Linked DNA regions of Homo sapiens: region 1 is linked to region 2. The links come from fine-mapping of genetic effects on plasma protein levels. A gene starts in region 2. The other region holds a variant in brackets. All regions are shown on one strand. Distances are from middle to middle.

The links. PIP is the posterior inclusion probability: the model's chance that the variant is causal. The UK Biobank Pharma Proteomics Project read protein levels with antibody pairs (Olink). The fine-mapping took linkage between variants from a reference panel, not from the people measured, so its PIPs are less certain.
Region 1: its variant is fine-mapped to the plasma level of the SH3BP1 protein (UK Biobank, PIP above 0.99).

Annotation. Positions count from the first base shown.
Region 1 is chr22:37,650,458-37,658,115 of GRCh38, reverse strand. It overlaps SH3BP1 (SH3 domain binding protein 1), which reads right to left. Exons shown (of 18, transcript NM_018957.6): 16 at 7,391-7,574; 17 at 4,243-4,337; 18 at 1,999-2,844. The coding sequence ends at 2,432. PDXP-DT (PDXP divergent transcript) reads left to right here. Exons shown (of 6, transcript NR_109952.1): 2 at 7,404-7,658. Among named protein-coding and RNA genes, the nearest start is that of PDXP-DT, 4.1 kb to the left of the region's middle. The variant G/C (reference allele first, on the strand shown) is at 4,957.
Region 2 is chr22:37,634,284-37,642,499 of GRCh38, reverse strand. It overlaps SH3BP1 (SH3 domain binding protein 1), which reads right to left and starts at 2,831. Exons shown (of 18, transcript NM_018957.6): 1 at 2,654-2,831; 2 at 1,332-1,374; 3 at 1,022-1,126. The coding sequence starts at 2,712. It overlaps PDXP-DT (PDXP divergent transcript), which reads left to right. Exons shown (of 6, transcript NR_109952.1): 6 at 1-668. RefSeq lists silencers at 2,614-3,053, 3,084-3,233, 3,864-4,158 and an enhancer at 8,073-8,162.

The DNA.
Region 1 (7,658 bases), 16 kb before region 2:
TTAAATGTACAGTTCAATGTCTTGACAAATGCTTTTGAAATCACCGATGTGTAGCAGGACAGATCCTCATGTAAGTGTTTTGGGTGAAGACTGGGCATTTTTTGGTTTGTTGGTTAGTTGGTTTAATTCCAGGGATTCTACCGTGAGCTAGGATAGGGTAGGGAAGCACTGGGCTAGAGGCTGGTAGGCTGTCACTGCAGCACGCCCCGGGAGGGCAGGATCCAGAATGGTCGTGGCCAATTGCCCAGAATAGTAATGGGGTGACCCAGGTTGGCTGGGTCCCTGTCTTAGGGAGGAGGCCTTGTGATCTGGAAGCAACCACAGGTCTTGGGACCTTTGAGGAGCCACTGGTCTGCAGTGTGGGGATGAATGAATTGTGAGCTGTGGTGTCACAGTTTTGAAGTTGTCTGCCAACTTCAGATAAGGCTGTGACCCCCAGGAGCAACTGGAGCTCCAACGACTTGGGAAAAACTGTACCTTGTACCCAACCTTGGAAGCTCAACTAGCTCCTATTCCCCAAGTGCCCTAAGCCTTTTGCTCCTGGCCTTTGCATAGATAGTCTCCTTGGCCTGAATGTTCCTTTTTCCTTTAAAAATTTCACCTTCAGGGCCGGGCTCGGTGGCTCACGCCTGTAATCCCAGCACTTTGGGAGGCTGAGGTGGGCGGATCACGAGGTCAGGAGATCGAGACCATCCTGGCTACGGTGAAACCCCGTCTCTACTAAAAATACAAAAAAAAAAAAAAAAAAAAAGAAAAAAATTAGCTAGGCGTGGTGGCGGGTGCCTGTAGTCCCAGCTACTCGGGAGGCTGAGGCAGGAGAATTGCTTGAACCCAGGAGGCGGAGCTTGCAGCGACCTGAGATCGTGCCAATGCACTCCAGCCTGGGCAACAGAGCGAGACTCCATCTCAAAAAAAAATAAACAAAAAATAAAAAATAAATAAAATAAATAAAAATAAACAAAATTCACCTTCAGGTCAGCTCCTGAAAGACTTCCCTTAAATATCACCTTCTCCAGGAAGCCGTTCTTAACCACCCACCCCATACCATGAGTCTAGGTTATATGGCCACCCCTAACTTGGCTAATATGGGCTCCCAGTGCAATGACACTTGATTTTTTTTGTTTTTGAGACAGGGTCTTACACCGTCACCCAGGCTGGAGTGCAGTGGCATGATCACTGCTCACTGAAGCCTCCAACTCCTGGGCTCAAGCGATCCTCCTGCCTCAGCCTTCCTAGTTGCTGAGACTACAGGCACACGCCACTACACCCAGTTAATTAAAATTTTTTTTTTTGTAGAGACAGGGTCTCACTATGTTGTCCAGGCTGGTCTAGAACTCCTGGGCTCAAGTGATCCTCCTGCCTCAGGCTCCCAGTGCTGGGATTATAGGCATGAGACACCGTGCCTGGCCAGACACTTGATTCTAATGGTTGCTTCTGCCTGTCTGTTTGGGAACTCTTTGGGTGTAGGGTTAAGTCTTGGAGCTAGCTCAGGGCCTGGCACAGAGCAGATTTAGGGAAGGTTTGAGGACAGATCCATCCCTGCTCCTTGGGGAGGCTTCCCAGCCTCCTCCCGGAAGGAGAGTGAGGGGTCCAGGAAACAGTGGGAGCGGTAGGGGCTTCTGTGGGCCAAGGGTGGTGCTTTGGTTTTCAATGGAGAGCAATACCTCTGTGGAGGGAATTGTTATAAAGTTTCACAAATGAGGAAAAGGGATACCAAGAAGTTAAGTAAATTGCCCAGAATGTGAGGGACAAGCCAGGCTTTGGAGTCAGACCTAGGCTCTAATCCCAGGCCCCTGCCTGACTGCCGTGTGACCTTGGCAGGTCACTTCTGTCTGGGCCTCAGTCTCCTCACTGCTAAGAGGTAATGGTATTTCCTGCAGTAGGAGAAGATTAAGTGGAAATCATCCACAGAACAGCACAGCATGTAGTGCAGAGAAAGCTCTAAAAATGTCTGCTGTGATCTCACTTCAGACAGGAAGAAAGGAGGCAAAGAATATGTATTGTTTTCCCCTTTATAAAATTGGCTTCTTTATTTCAAGGACAGAAAATAAAACTATCATTTGGGCAGCTGCTCCAGTTTTGTCCAAAATAATTTATTTACCAGCCTTACAAAAAACATGTCGGCAAGAGAAGAATCAGTCCCGTAGGAGCAGGCAAACCTCTCCTTCCTTCCGGTGGCTCCCCTAGGACCTGCCGGAGAGTGGAGAGTCCGGTGGGGGGGTCCCCAAGCCCAGGGTGGACGAGGAAAAGGTCAGGAAATAGAGGATTGTCCTGAGCCCTCCTGGCCATGGGGGCCGACCCAGTGGGCACTGAGGCACTTGTGGGCAAAGGCTGGAGGCCCATGCCCCTTTGTGGGGGGCGAGAGCTGTCCTGGGAGGGCCAGGTGGGGAGGGAGGGGGTGCTGAGGGCTGCTTAGGGAGAAACCAGCCACTCAGTTGGTCTCTGAGGCAAGGCTCCTGGGGCGGGGCTGAGGGGGGATAGCTGGGGGAGTGGGGACCCCACTGATAGCCTCAGGGGCTCCTCCCTCTGCTGTGGCAGCCCCCAGGTCCACCTGTGCAGGGTTACTCAAAGAGACTGGGCTGGGGGAGGCTGGACCTGGGGAGGCCGGGCTGGGGGAGGCTGGTGAACGCCGGCTTTGGCGCCGGGCAGGCTGAGGGGGTGTGGGGGGTAACGGGGGTGGCACTGTGGGGGCTCGGAGGCTGCTGCCAACCAGACGTCGGGGCAGGGCTTGGGGGGTCCCAGGGCTGCCAGAGCCAGGGGGCAAGGGCGGGGCTGGAGGGGAGGAGCGGGAGCCGGAGACCTGGGGGGGCGGCATGGTGGGCCGGGCTGGCGCCGGGCGCTTGGCTGTTGAGGAAGGAAAGGGTGAGGGAGGCTGAGTGTCCACGTGGCCTGTGGTGAATCCACCAAGCTCCGTGCCCCCTCACAACCTTTGCATCTGCTGTTCCCTCTGCCGGGAACACCGTTTCTGCGGCTGGCTCCTCATCGTCTAGGCCTCTCCTTGTGCCCTTTGCCCCCTTGGAGGCCCTCCCCGAGCACCCTAGTTAGAGTCCCACCCCATGCCCCACCCCAGCTGCTCCGTCACATTTTCCAGATGTATTTTCTTCGCAGGACTTTTTGTTCTCTGAAATTATCTTGCCCATTTATTTTGAATTTTTAAAAGTTCTTAAATTTTGAGACAGGGTCTCGCTGTGTTGTCCAGGCTGGTCTTGAACTCCAGGGCTCAAGCTAGCCTCCTGCCTCGGTCTCTCAAAGTGCTGGGATGACAGGTGTAAGCCACTGTCCCCGGCCTATCTTGTTCATTTTTATTTTACTGTAGACTACCTACCAGCCCTGGTCACGAGGCTCCCAGAGCTGTTCCGCCTATTCCTGGCTGTCCACTGCTCATTGCCTCCACTGAGTGTCAGTCACTCTCTCACCTGGTCAGCTCTGGGCCAAACTGACAGGTGAGTGTGCCAGAGGGGCTCAGAAGGAGGCCCCTGGTTTCTTCCCACCCCTGCCACCTCCTCTCCTTCACTGCCACTGCCTTTTTTCTTTTTTTTTTTTTGAGACAGAGTCTCATTCTTGTCACCCAGGCTGGAGTGCAGTGGCGTGATCTTTGCTCACTGCAGCTTCTGCCTCCCGGGTTCAAGTGATTCTCCTGCCTCAGCCTCCTAAGTATCTGGGATGATAGGCACCCGCAACCATGCCCAGCTAATTTTTGTATTTTTAGTAGAGGTGAGGTTTCACCATGTTGGCCAGGCTGGTCTTGAACTCCTGGCCTCAAGTGATCCACCCGCCTCAGCCTCCCAAAGTGCTGGGTTTACATGTGTGAGCCACTGTGCCCAGCCCCTTCACTGCCCTTTGAAGACTCCCTCCTTCCACTGTAGTCTGTGACCTCTGGGCTTCTGGAGGGACGGGACTCCAGTACCCCAGTACTCACGCCGGCTCCCCCTTAGTGGGCACGTGCTGTGTGCCAGGGCCAGGCACTCTTCCTGCAGCACCACTGCAGGCTCCATGCAGCCCCATAAGGTAAGTGCAGACACTGTCCCATTACACAGAGGAGGAAGGTGAGGCTCAGACAGGTGAACTCACCTGCCCAAGGTCAAATCTAAACCCAGAGTGCCAGGTGGCAAGACCTGGGCTCTTTATCACCTTGACTCCTGGCCTCCCCTGGCTGCCTAAAAAGATAGGAGGACCTGGGACTGCCTGTCCCCTCTCCCCGCCCACCCTCTGTCCCCTCCTCCCCTCCCACAGCCAACTCACTCCTCCGAGCCATGTCCTCCACTGGGGCAGCTGTCTCCGGGGGACTCCTGGTGACCTTGGGGGAGGCTGGTCTGGGAGGCACCTCAGACTCTGTCCTGCAGAGGGAAGGAGAGGATGGGGCAGACTTAGCCACCTCCCAGAAGTCTCATGGAATCCTGAGGAGTCTCCAGCTGCCAGGTGGAGTCCGGATCCTCCCAGCACTCGCTCTCTATCACTCTGTCCCCATGCCACGCACCCCTCCCAGAAGATGCTTCTGGCATTGGTTGGGGTCTGCATCCACTGAGCCCCTGGCTGCTTTGTGACCCTGTGACAGAGTCCATGTTCCTCTAGGGACCAGGAGGGAGCCCCACCTGCCTGGTAGGTAGGGCCAGGATGGGAGGTGGGACATAGGGCCTGACCTCTGCCTCAGCTCAGGGCCTCCATGTGGTTTTTTTTCTTGAGATGGAGTCTCACTCTGTCGCCCAGGCTGGAGTGCAGTGGTGCGATCTTGGCTCACTGCAGCCTCCACCTCCAAAGTTCAAGCAATTATCCTGCCTCAGCCTCTGGAGTAGCTGGGATTATAGGCACACACCACCATGCCCAGATTTTTTTGTTGTTGTTTTTTTGTAGTAGAGACGGGGTTTTGTCATGTTGTTCTTGAACTCCTGGTCTCAAGCGATCTTCTGCCCACCTCGGCCTCCCAAAGTGCTGGGATTACAAGTGTGCGCCACCTAG[G/C]CTTGTTTTTTTTTGTTATTGTTGTTGAGAAGTCTCGCTCTGTCGCTCAGGCTGGAGTGCGATGGCATGATCTTGGCTCACTGTGACCTCCGCCTCCTGGGTTCATGGGATTCTCCTGTCTTGGTCTCCTGAGTAGCTGAGATTACAGGCGTGCGCCACCATGCCCTGCTAATTTTTTGCATTTTTAGTAGAGATGGGGTTTCACCATGTTGGCCAGGCTGGTCTCAAACTCCTGACTTCAAGTGATCCACCTGCTTCAGCCTCCCAAAGTGCTGGGATTACAGGTGTGAGCCACCACACCCGGCCATTTCTTTTTCTTTTTTTTTTTTTTTTTGAGATGGAGTTTCACTCTTGTTGCTCAGGCTGGAGTGCAATGGCACGATCTTGGCTCACTGCAACCTCTGCCTCCCCGGTTCAAGCCATTCTCCTGCCTCAGCCTCCCGAGTAGCTGGGATTACAGGTGCGCACTACCATGCCTGGCTAATTTTTTGCATTTTTAGTAGAGATGGGATTTCACCATGTTTGCCAGGCTGGTCTCAAACTCCAGACCTGACGTGATCTACCTGCCTTGGCTTCCCAAAGTGCTGGGATTACAGGCGTGAGCCACCACACCTGGCCATTTCTTTTTGAGAAAGGATCTCACTCTGTTGCCCAGGCTGAGTGCAATGGCACAATCATTGCTCACTGCAGCCTCGACCTCCTAGGGTCAAGAAATCCTCCCACCACAGCCTTCTGGGTAGCTGGGACCACAGGTGTGCACCACCACACCGACCTCATTTATTTTTTGTAGAGACACAGCCTTGCTATGTTGCCCAATCTGCCTCCAAGTGATCTTTTTTTTTTTTTTTTTGAGACGGAGTCTCGCTCTGTTGCCCAGGTTGGAGTGCAGTGGCGCAATCTTGGCTCACTGCAAGCTCTGCCTCCTGGGTTCACACCATTCTCCTGCCTCAGCCTCCCGAGTAGCTGGGACTACAGGCGCCCACCAACATGCCCAGCTAATTTTTTGTATTTTTAGTAGAGACGGGGTTTCACCGTGTTAGCCAGGATGGTCTCGATCTCGCCTGCCTCGGCCTCCCAAAGTGCTGGGATTACAGGCGTGAGCCACCGTGCCGGGCCACGTGATCTTTATGAGATGCTTTGGCCACTGGAAGCCAGAGAGTGGGTGAGAAGCAGAGGGGGTCCTAGGCTCATTCCTCACTGCCTTCGGGTCTCTGCTTGGTCGTTTCTTCCTTAGCGAGGTCTTTCCTGGCCCCACAGCTAAAGTAGCCCCCACGCTCCCCCTTAACCTGCTCCCCCTCCCTTAGCAGCGCCTCTCCACCTGACACTATAGAGAGAACGCACTGGTGGCTGTGCTTGATGCTGTCTCTCTCTCTCCCTGTGCCCTGAAATGTGAGCATTTGTCTTGCTCATCAGGAAATTCAAGGTGTGAGCCGCAGTGCTCTGTGGTATCCTGAATAGTAGCTGCTTGGTATGGAGGCACCACGGTACCACGAAGCCCTTCCAGATTTAAACGATCAAAGAGAAGACGGTGGCCAAGCACTGTGGCTCATGCCTGTAATCCCAGCACTTTGGGGGACTGAGGCAGGCGGATCGCTTGAGGCCAGGAGTTCAAAACCAGCCTGGCCAACATGGGGTAACCCTGTCTCTACTGAAAATACAAAAATTAGCCGGCTATGGTGGTGCACGCCTGAAGTCACAGCTATTCGGGAGGCTAAGGCAGGAGAATTGCTTGAACCCGGGAGGCTGCAAGTGAGCCAAGATCTCGCCATTGCACTCCAGCCTAAGCAACAGAGTGAACTCCATCTCAGAAAAAAAAAAAAAAAAGAGGCTGGGTGCAGTGGCTTACACTTGTAATCCCAGCACTTTCAGGGGCCAAGGTGGGTGGATCATTTGAGGCCAGGAGTTCAAGACCAGCCTGGCCAACATGGCGAAACCCCATCTCTACTTAAAATACAAAAATTAGACAGGTGTGGTGGCACTCACCTGTAATCCCAGTTACTCGGGAGGCTGAGGCATGAGACTCAGTTGAACCTGGGAGGCACAGGTTGCAGTGAGCCAAGATTGTGCCACTGCACTCTGGCCTGGGCGACAGAGTGAGACTCTGTCTTAAAAAAAAAACAAAACAAAACTGGAAGGTATTTATAGATTCCAAAATGATCATCTCTTGAGTTCCCTAGGACTGGAAACAAAGCCTGGCATATAGTAGGTGCTCAGGAAATTGCTACATGATGAATAGGGCACACATCAGTGGCTGAGACAAATTCCGCCTCTGAGTCTCTGCCCCACCCTCTCCAAACTAGGAGATCCGGTCTTTGGGATGAAAACACTAATAATTACATTTCCAAAAATTCAGCTTCCAGCTCTGAGACATGGCGCCTCAGGCAGGCTGATTGTGGGAGTACCACAGGAGCCATTCAAGCCCCTCAGTCCTCACCTTTCCTTGGTAGCTGCTGAAGCCAAGGCTGGGGCCGGAGCTGGAGCTGGAGCCGGAGCCGGAGCCGGGGTGGTGGCTGGGGTGGGCACGGCAGTGGACGGAAGTTCCTCAGAGGCCAGCCTGTCACTGACTGTGTCCTGGAGGGTAACAGCTGAGAAGAGGCCTGACACGTTGAAGTTGATGTCTGGAGACAGAAGGAGCGGAGACGGCTCTCAGAGACCGCGCCAGGCTCCTCACTCCACTGGCCGGGACCGTTTCCCCTTCCCCT
Region 2 (8,216 bases):
CCCTCCACCCTGCCTGAGCACCAGGCCAGCCCCTTGGGGCAGGGGAGGAGGGAACCCAGGAGGGCCACAGTCCCAGATGAGAGTGGAAACAAGATGACAAGGCGTGGTGGGGGTGACATTTCCCTGAGAGCATGGATGGAGCCCCTCTCCATCTGGCGTGCCCTTTCCTCTTCCCAGAAGCCACTTGACTGGGCAGGAAGGAATGACCAAGTCCTACTGCAGACTGGGAAACTAAGATGCAGGGAGGGCAGGGAGCTTGCCCCAGGTCACACAGGTGGAGGGAGAATGGGAGCGGGAGCTCTTTCCCCTGTCCCAGGGTATATATGGCTGACCTAGCCACCGCTGAGTTCAAACGCTCTATGGCTCCCAATTTCCTTGCCTTGGCCACACTGAATTGTCAACTGATTCCAAAACATGGCCCCACACTCCCACCCCATCTGGAGTTACGGGGAATGCCTGCTCTGGGATCAGAGACCAGGGTTCAAACCTCAGTTCTGCCACTTACTAGCTATGTGACCTTGGACAAGTGACTTTATCTCTGAGCCTCCAGTTCCTCATGTGTAAAGCAATGCCTGCCCCTAGGGTTGTGCCAGTGTTCCATGAGACAGTGCACTCATATGTTAGTAACAAGCTGGCGGTTATCAGCCAATAAACGCTGCCTCTTGATTAATAAACGTGTATCCCTCAAAAGCCAGCTCAATTGCTACCTCCTTCAGGAAACCCTCTGAGGCCGCCCCATTGACAGCCTGCTCTTGCGCACTGATTGGACAGAGAAGTTCAGGTGCTGTCAGAAGCCTGGCCTTGGCTTATGGGAACTGGTGCACAGGGAAGTGGGGTAAAGGTGATGGGGAAGGTATAGGGCCTCTTGAGTGCAGTGCCAGAGGGGCCTTGGAACAGAGCAGTCTCCATGCCCTTGGTGCCAGACACTCAGACTGGCAAGGAAACCCCAGCCCCGACCTTGCTTCCCCATTGGATGGAAGTCTCCTGCTCAGGCCCCTCCTTCCCGGGACCCCCCACTCACCACCCGCTTGTCCATGTCTGCCCCGCTCTGGCCCTGCAGACAGGCCTGCAGCCGCTTGTGGATGTTGTGGGCTGCCCGCTTGGCCGGCTCCAGCCGCTGTTCTACCTGGGAAGGAGGTATGGAGGTTAAGGATCAAGAGAGGCTGTCTCCCCCTGAGCAGGAAACTTTCTCCTGTCCCCTGGGGACCCCATGGCCAACAGCTTGAGGAATGACTCAACCCAGGCCCCTACCTGGCGTCCCCGCCCCGGCCCTCTGCTCCGAGACAGCCTGCACAGGCCTGCCTTCCCACCTGCCCGGCCCAGGCACGTACCTGCAGCAGGTCCTCACCCAGGAACTCAGCGGTCTCCGGGGTGCTGCGGGGAGTGGTGGGGGGGGGGGGGAGAGTGCTTCTGCTGAGCCTGCCTGGGTTAGAACGCCCCCTACTTCCCTTCCCCGCAGCAGGGCACCTGGACCCCAGTGCTTCCACTGTCCCTCCCAGCTGAGGCCTGCCCTGGGTGGCCCAGTTGCTTCATCCCAGTCGGAGCACATTCCATGGGGGTGGGAATAGGATACATGGGTTTTTCCTCCTCCACCCAGGGCTGTGTCCTGAGAGAGGGCGGACAGATGAAACTAAAGGGGAGGCTGAGAGACCCACCCGGGGCCCAGCTTTGGGACACAGAAGCCTCTTTTCTGCCCACTCCCAAATCCTCAGCCCACCCCGGGATGAGGAGTATTAGCTGGCCCCAAGAACGGGAAGTGCAGGAGCTCAGACTCCTAGGCACAGTCACACAGCACTCTGGACTACAGCTGTGGGCAGGGGTGCACAGGCCCTTGGCCCCCACCTGGGGACACATGGGGGATGCCAAGGCCCACTGCAAGGTGGTCTGACTGTCCAGGCTATGTAGGCATCTGTGCCAGTGTGAGACTAGAACCAGGTCTCTGGACACCCAGTCCCCTCCCTGGACCCAGAGAATGGGGAACTCCTGAGGCTGGGGGAAGAGGAGCAGAGAAGACAGGCTCTGAGAGGCTCCCCAAACTTCCGGCCTCCGTGCCACCGGCTCAGAGGCTGGGGGTGGGAGCTGGGAGACCTGGGGATATTTCCACCTGAGTCCAGGAAAAGCAGAAACGAGACAGAAGCAGGAGGCCCCTGGGCTGGGGGGAGGGGGAGGGGGAGGGACGCTGCAGGCCAGGGGCAGGCCCCTCCTCCCACCAGGCCAGGACCCATCTCCTCCCCTCGCCCCAGGTCTGTGGCCCTAATCGACCCTCCTCCCTCCCCGGCCCAGCAAGCAGAGGTGGTGAACTGTCCCATTGTCCAGAGGGGACAAGTGAGGTCAGGAGGACCATCCACTTAGAGACTCGTGGAGGCAGAGAAGTCCCAGCGTCCTAGGGCAGAGAGCATTCTCCCGCCTGAAGCCCCCTCCAATCCGGTAAGGGGGGGCATCCCTTCCCCCAAAGGCCACCCTTGCTCCTCCAGCTCTGCCCGAGAGACGGGGGCGGCGTTCAGAGAGGAGGAAGAGAGAGCAGGAGTCTGGCCGCTCAGAGGGTGGCTGCCCAGCTGTCCCCAGCCTCCCCCACCCCCGTCTCCCCCGACCCTTTTACGACCCCTCAAGTCCTGCCGGGGTAAGAGTGGGGCTGGAAGCGGGTGACACTCACCGTCCCAAGCTGCCCGTCTGGGCCAGCTGCCGCATGCGGTGCAGCTGCCTCTTCATCATCTTGGGGGCGAGCTGGGGGCTGCGGGGTCACGGCGGGGGTCGCGGGCCCGGGGAGCCCCCGGTCCAGCCTGCCTCTCCTGCGGCGCGGCTCTTGCCCCGGATGGGTGGGCGGCGCTCTCGCTTCCTGGGCCGCCGCGCGGCTCTTGCTGGCGGCCGGCTCTCTCCTCCCCCGCTCACGACTCCGCCCCCGGCCCCCAGGTCACTCCTCTCTCCAAGTTGGTTTCCTCGCTCTTCCCCGGCTTCCGGGCCCCCGGGCGACCCCCGGCCGGGCCCCCGCTGCTGTGTGTCCGCCGGCCGCGGCCGTCCACAGGTTGTGCCCGGCTCCTCCTCCCCGCAGCGCCCCGCCCAGCCCCGGTGGCGGGAAGCAGGTAAGCCCATTCCTGCCCCTGCGCCCGCAACCCGCCCCAGGCGGGGTGCCTGCCCCACCCGCAGCCTGCAGACCCGAAGTATAAATAACCTTTGCATCCCTCGCAAAGAGGAAAGGGTACCAAGCGAAAGAGGGGTAGGCCTTTCTGACCTGTCCTGGCCTCTCTGGGCCTGCCGCGGATACTGCCTTGCACTCTCTTCCGCAGAGGACCTCTGGCCCCCTGGAACTAAACCCCCCACCACTGGATGACTGGCTGGGAGCTTTGGCTTCCTGGGGCCACGGGCTGCTGTGTGGCCGTGGACAAGCCCCTGGAACTCCGGACTCGCTGTTTCTAATGGTCTGATGGGCCAGCTGTCCTGGGCCTGCCCATTCTGCAGAGTGGACAAGACACCCCTGCCAGCTCCCTTTAAGGGAGGTGCGTGCCACCCCTCAGCCACCAGGAACCCTCCCAGAGCGGTTCGCGACACCCTGTTCTCCACATCTCCTGGCAGTTTGCTCCATCTGTGAAGCCCGTCTCCTCTCATTCCTCCTGGCAAACAGCCTCAGTCCCCCTTCCTTCTTGTAGGGCAATGATGTAGGTGCTGCTCTGACTGCCCCCAAACTCAGTAGTTCTCCTCTTTGGCCCTCCACTCAACACAGAGTTAGGCATACAGTAAGTGCTCCATAACTGCTGGTTTTACAAGATGTGAGCGCCTTTAGGAAACAGTAGGCTCTCCTTACCCTGCACCCCTGTGGCATCAGGAGCCGCAGGCGTGGGGAAGAGGGGAGGGTGTGCCCCAGAGTCCTGCCACACCCTCTGCACTTTGCTTTGTTAGTTTCAGTTTAGTTTGAGACTATTTGAGCCACTACTGTGTGCCGGTGCAGACTGTGTGCCGGTGCAGACTGGGCGCCTCTCAGAGGCAGGACCTTGGCCCCACACATCTCCATACTCCCAGCACCTAGCCCAGGGCCTGGCACACTCACTGGCTGCTTCTCTCCTCCCTAATGAGGCAGGACTCATTGGGGGTGGGAGGAGCTGAGAAGGGAACCCAACAGCTGCCTGCTATGGCCAGAGCCTCCCAGATGGGAGCCCACCTGAGTGTGGAATCCTGGTGGGAAGTTGGGAGGCTCCAAGATCAAAGCTCAGGCCAGGATGAGATGTCAGGCAAGGTTCCCTCCCCCATCTCCCTTTTCCCAACAGGAAGGCTGCTGGCCAGTGACTATGGGTGGCATGGCAAGGGAACCTCAGGTGCCATCCTTCCTGTCCCTCGGGAAGTCTCTGGACTATGTGGTGCCCCTGCTCTGTTCCAGCCAAGCCTCCAGCCCAGACCACACCGGGCCTGGGCTTGTCTGGTTCTGTAGCTGGTCTGAAAGTCCTTGAAGGCAAGGTTTGGCTTACACCTCTGTCTCTCCTAGATTTGCCCAGTCCTGAGCCCCAGCTCCGGCCTGGTGAGGGGTCAGTACACGTGGGTTGTAGCCGCAGCTGTGGTGGAAACTACCTGAGCCATATTATCAGTCTAACTGAGCTCTTGCCCCGCGCTCCTGCCCTGGTCTCCAGACTCCCCTCCAGCCAGACCTAAGGGTCCTGGGCAGGAGAGACACCCTGGGCCTTTGAGTCGGATTCGGGTGGGGCTGCTGTGCCTCCTAGCTGGGTGATGGGTAGATTTTAGGCCCTCCCTTGTCACACCTGGATGTTGAATCATAGAAGGATGGACTCCCCAAAGGTTGGGTTAGGGTTATAGGCTGTTCCTTAGAAGGAATTGTAATCAGAGACTTACGGACTCAGAAGTTTTGATCAGTGGGTGTTGGGATCATGGCCTTTCTAAACTGCAGACACAGAAGGGGTACCTCAGAGCTCCCCAGCCAACCCCTCGTGGGGCCCTTCCCCAATCCAGGGGCCTGTTGGCTTGGGTCATTCTCTACCAGGCTGGTCTTAGCTGGCTCCTGCTAAAGCCTCTGGGACCCGGCAGTGTGCCTGTCACAGTGGCTCAGGCAGCAGGAACAGAGAGAGCTTAAGGGTGTGGAGGAGGCTAGCTGGCCAGGCTGTGGCTGTCATTAGCTGGGTAACCTTAAGTGGGACACTTCACGTCTCTGAACCTCAGCATCCTCCTCAGTAAATTGGAAATAATAGTACCTACCTCACAGAAGCGTTAGGTGAATTAATAGATGCAAGATGCTTATAAAGTGCCTTGCGTTGTTTCTTGTTACCATCATTATTCAGCTTGCCAAGTCAGGAATGGAAAGACCCCTTACCCCCATTCCTGCCCCAACGACCCCTGTGTGTGTCTAGCTGCCTTAGGACAATGGGACTTTTTGTTGTGCTATAGCATATCCTCCAGTGAGGGTGGTATCACTGTCCCCATTTTACAGGTGAATAGCCCAAGGCCCCTGGCCTAAGGTCCCCAGCTGGAAAAGTGGTAGAGGCCAAGTTAGGAAACAGATCTGACAGTCTCCTAAGCCCACGTGGGCTCTCCTGCTGTGCCAGACCCAGACAGCCTTGCCTGGGAGCTCCAGAAATGCTGGCCCTTGGCTCTGCCTTAACCCCTGTGGTTGCTTTGAGGGCCTGGCAGCCTCTGTGCAGATTTGTCTGTGAAAGCCTGGGACAGTCTGGGTAGCATGTGCTAGTAAGGCTTGAGCAGGATGTGGGCAGGGAGGTCAGCAGCTGAGTGGTGGTGGTAACGGGGGTCGGAAGCAGGGGCTGCAGGAGCAGAAACATCCCATTTTAGACACTTTGACAAATTGCCTGTTTGTAGTATCCCTCGGTGCTGCCCTCTGTGTGGACTTCCACCCAGAGCAGCTAGGGGCATAGTGAGATCTCTGGGGCTCTAAAAACTCCCTCACCTCCCTCCCCAAGCCCAAAGGACTTTCCAGGAAATCCTGGGGTGGCCCTAAGGCTGAGAACTCCATTTTAATCCTGATAGCCCTGGAGGAGTGTGTACCCTGAGCCCAGCCCCAGAGGACAGCCCGACAGAGGCTGGGGGGAGGACTTGGGAGGTATGGGGCAATGTGCCATCCTGGTAGACACCTCAAGACTGCTGGCCCAGACTCAGCCCATAATGTGTGACTTCTCTGAGCCTCACTTCCCATTTCACAGGGCATTTCAGAGGCTTAAGATGGGAGGCTATAGGCATCAGGTCCGGGGGCTCCTCTTGCCTGCCTTGCTGGGCTGGTGCCCTGGTTGCAAGGCCCAGAGAGACTGGGGGAGGGGGTATGTCGAGAGACCAGGCAGACCAGGCACAGTAGCTCACCACAACACTTTGGGAGGCTGAGGCAGGTGGATCGCTTGAGCTCAGGAGTTCCAGACCAGCCTGGGCAACCTGGCGAAACTCTATACAAAAAATAAAAATATTAGCCGGGCATGGTGGCACGCGCCTGTGGTCCCAGCTGCTCAGGAGGCTAAGAGGGTAGGATTGCCTGCGCCGAGGAGGTCAGGGCTGCAGGGAGCTGTGTTTACAACACTGCCCTCCAGCCTGGGTGAGAGACCTTACCTCAAACAAACAAACAAAAAAACCAAAAAACTGACTGGGGGCCGGGTGTGGTGGCTCACGCCTGTAATCTCAGCACTTTGGGAGGCCAAGGCAGGTGGATCACCTTAGGTGGGAGTTAGCCTGACCAACATGGAGAAACCCCGTCTCTACTAAAAATACAAACTTAGCAGGATGTGGTGGCGCAGGCCTGTAATCCCAGCTACTCGGGAGGCCGAGGCAGGAGAATCGCTTGAACTCGGGAGGCAGAGGTTGCGGTGAGCCGAGATCGTGCCATTGCACTCCAGCCTGGGCAACAAGAGCGAAACTCCGTAAAAACAACAACAACAAAAAACCGACTAGGCAGGAGCAGGCTCCCAGGCCCTTGCCACTTCTCCTGGCTGCCATAAACAGACGAACAGTGTGATGCGGTTGCTGAAAACCAAAATTAACTGGTGCCTCGGCCAAATCAACAGAAATGGAAGTGGGGCTTCGAGATCTGGGAAGTCCCACTGGTCTTGGCATGGCACTGGGGGTCACCCTTCAAGAGACAGAGCACACGCCTCCCCAGTGCACTGCATCCCAGCCCCTGAGACTGCAGAGCGCAGTGGCCCGGACCTCTGTGCAGCAACACGGTATTTGGGGAAGGACTCCTCCAGGGAGTGGAGGCCCAGGGTCCTTTCCTCTGGTTAGAACCCACCCCAGACTCTCAGACAGATGCAGGGCTTCTGTGGTACCTTATGTCTTTGCTCTCAGGGTGCCACACTGGCTCCCAAGTCCTTGCCAGCTTGTGAACTCTTAGGACAGGGGCTGGCCCAGGGGCTGCTCAGGAAACACTGGCATGACTGACAGGATGGGTGGGTTAAGGACAAGGCAAGGGACAAGGTCCAAAGGCTGAAGGGACCCCACCTTCCCGTCCCCGGAATATCCTGGGTCACTCCAAAGCTGACAGCCTGGCTCCTTTGTCCAAGGACTCCTCAGAGGGACCTTATAGCTCATTGAGTCCCTCTCCCCTTTTCCAGAAAGGAAAGCATCTTCCTCAAAATCACACAGCAAGCCAGTGACCCAGCCAGAACCAGCCCCCAGACTCCCAGCTCACAGTCCCACCTGTTCCCCATGCCAACCTGTACTCCTCCCTGCCATGGCCAGTAATGAAGACTGTGCTGGAGGTGGGACTCTGGCACCCCAAGTGGATGCTGCAGGGGTTATGGTTTCATTTCAGGTAGAAGAAACTTCCAACCGGAGTTATCTTCAGGAGACATCACAAGTGTGGAGGCGAGTCCTGCAGGGTAGGGAAGGGGAACAGGAACGAGGCCACGTGGCTGGGACAGGGTGTCTGGAAGCCTCCAGGGGCCAGCCTCTGTCTGGAGGGCTGTGCCAGGGTGGGAGTCCCACTGTAGGGATCTGATAGGAGGCTCCCGCAGGGTGCAGCTAATGCCTCTTGTCCCCTCAGCAGTAAGGCGGACATGGAGGAGCTCTCAGCCTGCGCTTTCAGTGTGGGCCCAGCAGAGAGGGGCCCCTTGCTTGCTGATGAGTGTTAAAGAGCACACACGCTGGGATGCGGGTGTGCTGGGCAATTCTCCAGCATGTCACAACTATATCTAAGGAGAAGGGTTCAGCGGCCAAGTTCAGATTGGGAAACACTAGATTAGACAAAGTGAAAATGGCTTCTTAAATGAGGGACTTCCCAGGGT